2 linked regions of the Homo sapiens genome follow. The protein of the gene in region 1 purifies or fractionates together with the protein of each later gene. This does not show direct contact. Each region holds a gene or a part of one and is shown on either strand. Other genes may lie near its edges.

The links. The genes of interacting proteins can lie anywhere in the genome.
Region 2: the proteins of TFDP2 (region 1) and CYRIB purify together in Homo sapiens (affinity purification with mass spectrometry; one large-scale study listed by BioGRID and IntAct). This does not show direct contact.

The regions. Positions count from the first base shown.
Region 1 is NC_000003.12:141,943,871-141,947,334, forward strand, and holds the end of TFDP2 (transcription factor Dp-2), read right to left. Parts: 3' UTR 1,169-3,464; coding exon of another isoform or gene 1,140-1,168; 3' UTR 558-1,139; downstream 1-557. UniProt on the Homo sapiens protein: Can stimulate E2F-dependent transcription.
Region 2 is NC_000008.11:129,842,315-129,845,703, forward strand, and holds part of CYRIB (CYFIP-related Rac1 interactor B), read right to left. Parts: intron 1-3,389. UniProt on the Homo sapiens protein: Negatively regulates RAC1 signaling and RAC1-driven cytoskeletal remodeling. Regulates chemotaxis, cell migration and epithelial polarization by controlling the polarity, plasticity, duration and extent of protrusions.

The sequences.
Region 1 (3,464 bases):
AGAGCGAGACTCCGTCTCAAAAAAAAAAAAAAAAAATACAAAAATAAGCCGGGTGTGGTGGCACGTGCCTGTAATCCCAGGTACTCCAGAGGCTGAGGCAGGAGAATCCCTTGAATCTGGGAGGTGGGGGTTGCAGTGAGCCAAGATTGCACCACTGCACTCTAGCCTGGGCAACAGAGACTCCATCTCACAAACAAAAACAAAAAAAAGGCTTTTTTTTTTTTTTTTGAGATGGAGTCTCACTCTGTTGCCCAGGCTGGACTGCAGTGGTGTGATCTCAGCTCACTGCAACTTCCGCCTCCCAGGTTCAAGCGATTCTCCTGCGCCAAGTTGCTGGGATTACAGGCGCATGCCACCACACCCAGCTCATTTTTGTAGTTTTAGTGGTGACGGGATCTCACCATGTTGGCCAGGCTAGTCTTGAACTCCTGACCTCAAATGATACGACCACCTTGGCCTCCCAAAGTGCTGGGGTTATAGGCGTGAGCCACTGCGCATGGCCTAACACCTCCTTTTTTAACTAAAAATATCCTGACCCACTAGTAATGAGACTAACATTATTTTAAAGTGTTTATTTTTTTCTATAATACATTTCATTCAAATCATAAAAGTCTGATACATTTTTTTCTCAAGAACAACTTACACTCATTTGAGATGCTTTTTCTTTCCTTTAATCTTATAGGATGGACAAAGATACACTTTAATGGACAAAAAACACCAGAGTTCATTACAAATACAGCTTCCCAGGCCCCACCTCCAGCACTTCTGACTGAGCGTCTGGGACGCATCCTAGGATCGCAAAACTGTAAAATTCCCCCAGTCAACTCCACGGCAGGCAGGCCTGGAACCACCCTTAGTGGAACACTGCTTAGGACTTGTCTGTTATCTACCAGAAGCAATTTCAGAAAATCAGGAGTAATTACGTATACAGAAATAGCTCTTCTATAAAATTTCCATATAAAAATAATGGCATTTATTTACAAAGTCTGAGATACTACAAAATAATATATCATATTAGGTTGTGTACTTCAATCTAATAAAGGAAAGTCTACATTGGGCAAGTCAGATGTGGTGGTTGCATTTTCCTCTTATCTCTCTTGTTTAAATTGCTTAAAGCATGTGGCACCACGATGTATCCTTCATGCAGAAAAAAGGAGAACTATATTTTCTGGAAATAAAACCCAATAGCACATAGTCAGAGTAAAGCATTTTCAGATGAAAAGGTGAACAACCTAGTGGTTTGGGCTCATGGCCCTTTACCCACCTTTTTTTTTTGAGATGGAATTTCGCTCTTGTTGCCCAGGCTGGAGTGCAAATGGCACGATCTCAGCTCATTGCAACTTTTGCCTCCTGGGTTCAAGAGATTCTCCTGCCTCAGCCTCCCGAGTAGCTGGGATTACAGGCATGCGCCACCACACCCGGCTAATTTTATATTTTTAGTAGAGACAGGGTTTCTCCATGTTGGTCAGGCTGGTTTCGAACTCCCGACCTCAGGTGATCCGCCCGCCTCGGCCTCCCAAAGTGCTGGGATCACAGGCGTGAGCCACTGTGCCTGGCATACCCACCTCTTTTGTCCAAAACTCAAGAGTGATGGTGGTGAACCAAGTGCGTGAAGGAACTCAGTACTGAAACGTGATCCCCGGAGTGCAGCCACCTGGGCAGCCAGTGCATATGGTTAGTGGGTGGTTCCATTTTTCAGGACACTGAGAGGTTGAACCTGCCATGGAACTACTGGGAAAACTAGAACTGCAACAAGCCCAGAGGAGCTATTCAGGAGAAAAGTAGCCCCATTGTCAGTGACGTTTTAGTATGAAAATCCTGGCCCCAGTGTGAACAAGCACAATCGCCAGGCCATGTGACATGAAGCTCGGCCATGGTGAAGTATGGTAAGTGACAAATGGCATGCATTGAAGCACGACAAGGGATGAGTTTTTAAATCCAAACGTGATCTGGGGAATTTTCCGTTATGATTCGACAGACATGGGCAGCACCAGCTGGTGTGGTGTGGAAGGACCAGTTGGTCACTGAACTTCTTGGGCCCCTGCCAATGGCCAGCATGGGGAGCCCTTGTCTGTGGAGGTCTCAGCCCGGGGTTTTCTGACTTGAGAGAGGCCTAAACCTGACACCACAGCCTCATGCTGGGGCTCGGGAAAGGAGTCCCACTTCTACCCCTCAGCTGTTTGGCACTTGGTGACACAGGACTGATGCTAATCCAAAACCCATCTGGGAGGACTGTGGTGACAGCGTGGCCCTCACGGAGGGAAGAAGCTCTGGGTTTTGGTGCAGGCTCTGCCACAGACAGGCTGAGGGATGGGAGGCAAGTCAAGCTCTTGCTTGTTTCCCATCTCTAAATGAGCAGGGTGGGAGCGATGTTATCCCCGATCCTGAGACCTGCGGCGAAGGGGCGAGGCCTGACCCTGAGCATCAGCTACGTTGGCCTCCAATGCAGCTATAAGCAGTGAAGACCAAAGTCTAACCTGCTGAAACAGCAAGGGGCAAGACAGCATTGACTTCAACAGGCCTTTTTTGTAAAGCAAAAGGTAAGATGACAAGATCCGGTCTTGTCTGAGAACAGCTGCACAGAATACACATTATAAATGAGCACTTTCTCCTATCTCAGCACCCTGGTGAATGGGTGTCAGAGAAGTTTCTGGACCTGTCAGGGACTCCCAGGGCTTAGCCAGAGGGTCAAAGTGTTGTGCCCACTCACTTTTTCTTCTTTAGCATACTGTGGAGTGAGACATGTGGGAAAATCGGATCCCAGAGATTACCTAAGCATCACTTCTCAGAGACGTTTTGGTTAAGGGACTACTTCCTGAGAAACGTTATAATTTATGTGGGTATTGAGCTTGAATTTTTTTTAATCATAAAATCTTAGGCTGGGCGTGGTGGCTCAAGCCTGTAATCCCAGCACTTTGGGAGGCCGAGGCAGGCAGATCACATGGTTAGAAGTTCAAGACCAGTGTGGTCAACATGGTGAAACCCTGTCTCTACTAAAAATACAAAAATTAGCCAGGCGTGGTGGCACATGTCTGTAATCCCAACTACTTGGGAGGCTGAGGCAGAAGAATCGCTTGAACCCGGGAGGCAGAGGTTGCAGTGGCTGAGATCATGCCACTGCACTCCAGCCTGGGCAACAGAGCAAGACTCCATCTCGAGGGGAAAAAAAATATTATGCAAACATCAGGTTTTTCTCTTCTTAGTAACCATGTTTGGCTTGAGTGGAAATTTAATCAAACACTGTTATCAACTGGGAATTTGAGGGCAGGGAGGCACATTGCTGAGGGTCATTCAAATGGCATGGTGCAGGCTCCTGATACATAGTGTGGGTCTTTGGGAAATGCATATTAGTTTTCATCAGTGCTTGGGGACCATTGCTTTGGGTGCATGAATATGGGAACCCATTTGGGAAAACGGTTCTTAGAAGTCCAGTCATCAGCTTCACCAAAGCCAGCCCATATGCA
Region 2 (3,389 bases), on another chromosome or scaffold:
TTATGGCTTCTCATTGTAGCTTTAACCCTGTTCAGGTTCTGCACAGCCTGTCATCCTCACCCCCTTTCTAACTGAATAGCCAGTAGCTATTTAGCAGCTATTTAACTTAGTTACAACTACACTGCTGAAATGATTGGTTGACCTCTCAAGTAAACAATTAGCTGTAACTTCTCCCTCAGAAGAAAATGCTGTTCTATCCCAGAGGCTGGCAAATTATAGCCCATGGGCCATCCAATCCACCAATTTTTTTGTGGACTGTGAGCTAATTCTATTTTTTAACCTTTTGGATGACTGGGGGGCAAAGGAAGACAAAAAAAGAAATAGTAATATTTCATGTGTTATTGTGGAAATTCTATGAAATTCAAATTTCAGTGCTTACATATAAAAGTTTTACTGAAACACACCAAGTTGACTCATTCATGTATCATCTATGGTTACTTTCTTGTTATGGTGGCAGAGGTGAGGAGCTGTAACAGAAACCATGTGGCCCACAAGGCCTTTAATATCTACTTACTCTCTGGCTCTTTACAGAAAAGTGTTTCAACCCCTTTTCTATTCTGTATTTAAGATGCCTCAATTACTACAGCTGTTATATCTCTAAAATGTCTCAATTCTCCCAAGTGCCTTATTTCTAGGCATGTGTTTTGCTACATGCATGCAAATCCAACATAAGAATCCAAAAAAGAATCACAAAGAGTGATTATTATAAAGATTCACAACAGTATTCCCTTAAACAGTAAAAATCCACTAAGCAAGCTTACTATGTCTCAGGCACTGTTCAAGGAGCTTACAACCTAGCAGACGGAGAAAGATAATGATACACTAATATTAGTGACAGGGTAAAGCCTAGCAGCAAAGGAGAGAAGTATAACAAGAAGAGGCTACATACAGAGACAGGGAAACACCATCTCCCATGGACACCCAGAGGCCATACATAGTAAGGAGTTTGGAGATTATTTTAAGTGCAGTAAAAGCCAGTGGAGCATATTAAGCAGGAGAGGGGTGTGCTGCCACTTAAGTTTTATCATTCTGGCTGTTGAGGGCAAGCTGTGGAGAACAGAAGGAGCAGCAGGGAGGCATTAAATAAGGGGGCTGTTACTGAGCACCAAGTGTGAGATAATCAGATGTCAAGGCTTGGGCCAGATTACAGCAGCAATGGAGACAGGTGTTCAATGCGTGAATGTGGACTGTATTTTGGAGATAACCCAGACAGAGAAATCTGGTTCACAAGAATTCCACATATAATCTTAAGGACTAGATCGTTTTTTCTAGAGATAAGGTCTGGCTATATTACCCCGGTTGGCCTTCAATTCCTGGGCTCAAGCAATCCTCCTGCCTTGGGCTCACAAGTAGCTGGGATGACAGGTGTGTGTCACCATGCCCAGCTAGGACTACATCCTTTTCAGCAGGTCCACATAGATCTTTCTGTGTTTAAGAAATTTAAACCCAATTCCTATTAGGTTCATTTCAAATTAATTTAAAAACCGAAGAATGCTTATTAAGTACCTGATATACTGTCTACAATGTTACTGAGAAGTCACTCCCAAACTGTTCTCATGTTTTTGAATAGGTATCAGCGTGCCTGGCACATAAATGGTGCTCAATAAATACTTGCGGAAGGAAGACAAGATAAGCAGCCAGGTTGGAAAGAAAAAAAAATCCATAAAGGAATATTGACATTAAATGCTAAGTGATGTCACAAGGATTTAACCTTTTTGTTCTCTTTATGTAGATAAAGTATACGCAATTACACGAAATCCTACAGATGTCTCGTAGTTCTCAAAATTCTTCATTTGTTTCTCCTCCACTTCTTTATACAACTAAATAGTAGAAAGAGCCAAGCAATGTGCACAGTAAAATTTCTACTGCAGAGTAGTTAAAAGTATCACTACTCAGCAATGTACTGTACTATTCAAAGAGTGCTAAGTGTTTTCCTCTCTACCCATGACGCAAGTTCTCGCTCCTTCTGTGGGATGTGATCTTGGCTTCCTTCTTTGGACAAAGCCAATCCAGAGCACACTGCATCACCACACTCACTTATCAAGAAAAGGCCAATATTATCTAATATACGTGAAAATAAAACATGAAGATATATGGCATTATTTTCCTTTGTGCACAAAAACAAATTTTTTTTCCAAGTGCGACTGTTTTACTAAAGAAAACCAATTATTATTTACCTTTACTCTTAAATTTAATAAAGAAGACAATTATCTACTACTGAATCTGAACTCCCAGCTCTCTTTTTTTCTTTCCCTCTTATGATTAAATGTATTTGGTTCCATTTTTCCACCTGTAAAATGGACATATGACTTGATGCCTTCTCTTAGTAGCACAGGAAGTTCTATATAAATAATTACTACAGGAAAGCATTCAAAACAAACATATACATACATATGGAACTATTCTCTCATTTAAAATCTTTTGGTCTTTAAGTTCTATTTTGTGGAGGTGTGTAACACTCGTGTAGTACTTTTGGGGTTACAAAATGCTTTCTAAACATGTGCTCTCAGTAAAACATATTAAAGGCTAGATGGATTTCCTTTAAGAAATATTTTTCAAAGTATCAGCATTATCTACATCAGCTAGGGTGTTTGTTTAAAAGGAAAGTGCCTGAGTCCCAAGTCAGACCTGATTTTGTTGTTTCTAAAAGCAACATTTTATTTTCTAGTTTCCATTATCTATTATAATAGGAAAGAAAATGTACCAAACTGACAGGTGACTCTTGCCTCCGTGGTGCTTTCCTTCCCTCCCCTCTCCCTCAAACACAGATTACTTTGTGGGAGACTTCAACCCTGTCTTTCACTCGCCATCACTGGTCTCCTCTGCTTTCATTCTAAGGAAAAGGAAACTGAACTACCCTTAAAGTGAAACGTAGATTCTGAGTTAGGCATACTACCTTCAAGCTCAAGAAAGAATCCTAAAACCTCCTAGATCTCAATTACCTTCAAGTTTTTAAAAAAGATTTCCTGCCACTTGCTGGCTTCAAAGAGCCTGACCAATCAGAAAGACAAAGTCTTGGGAGAAAAATCAGGTTGACTGAGACACAGGGAGTATTCAGAAAGAAACCAAGGAGGAAAGACTCATGATATCATTAAATATTGGCAAAACCACTGAAGTATGCGTTGTAAAAACCCCAAGAATACAGAATTCTAAAAACTAGGCTTATGGTTAAAATAGTTTGACATTATAAGGATTTTAAATTATGTTCCTTAATCTTGCTGATGTTCATTTAGAATAGATCACCTTTATTCAGGCAGCTACCGCTTATGCAACACTTTTCATAATCTTTTAAAAACTATTTTTAAACATTTTTTCATAATCTTAATAAAATCATTTGACAGTTCCGCTTAGCTGAAATGATACAGCCTACATTTTATGTGGTAAATATC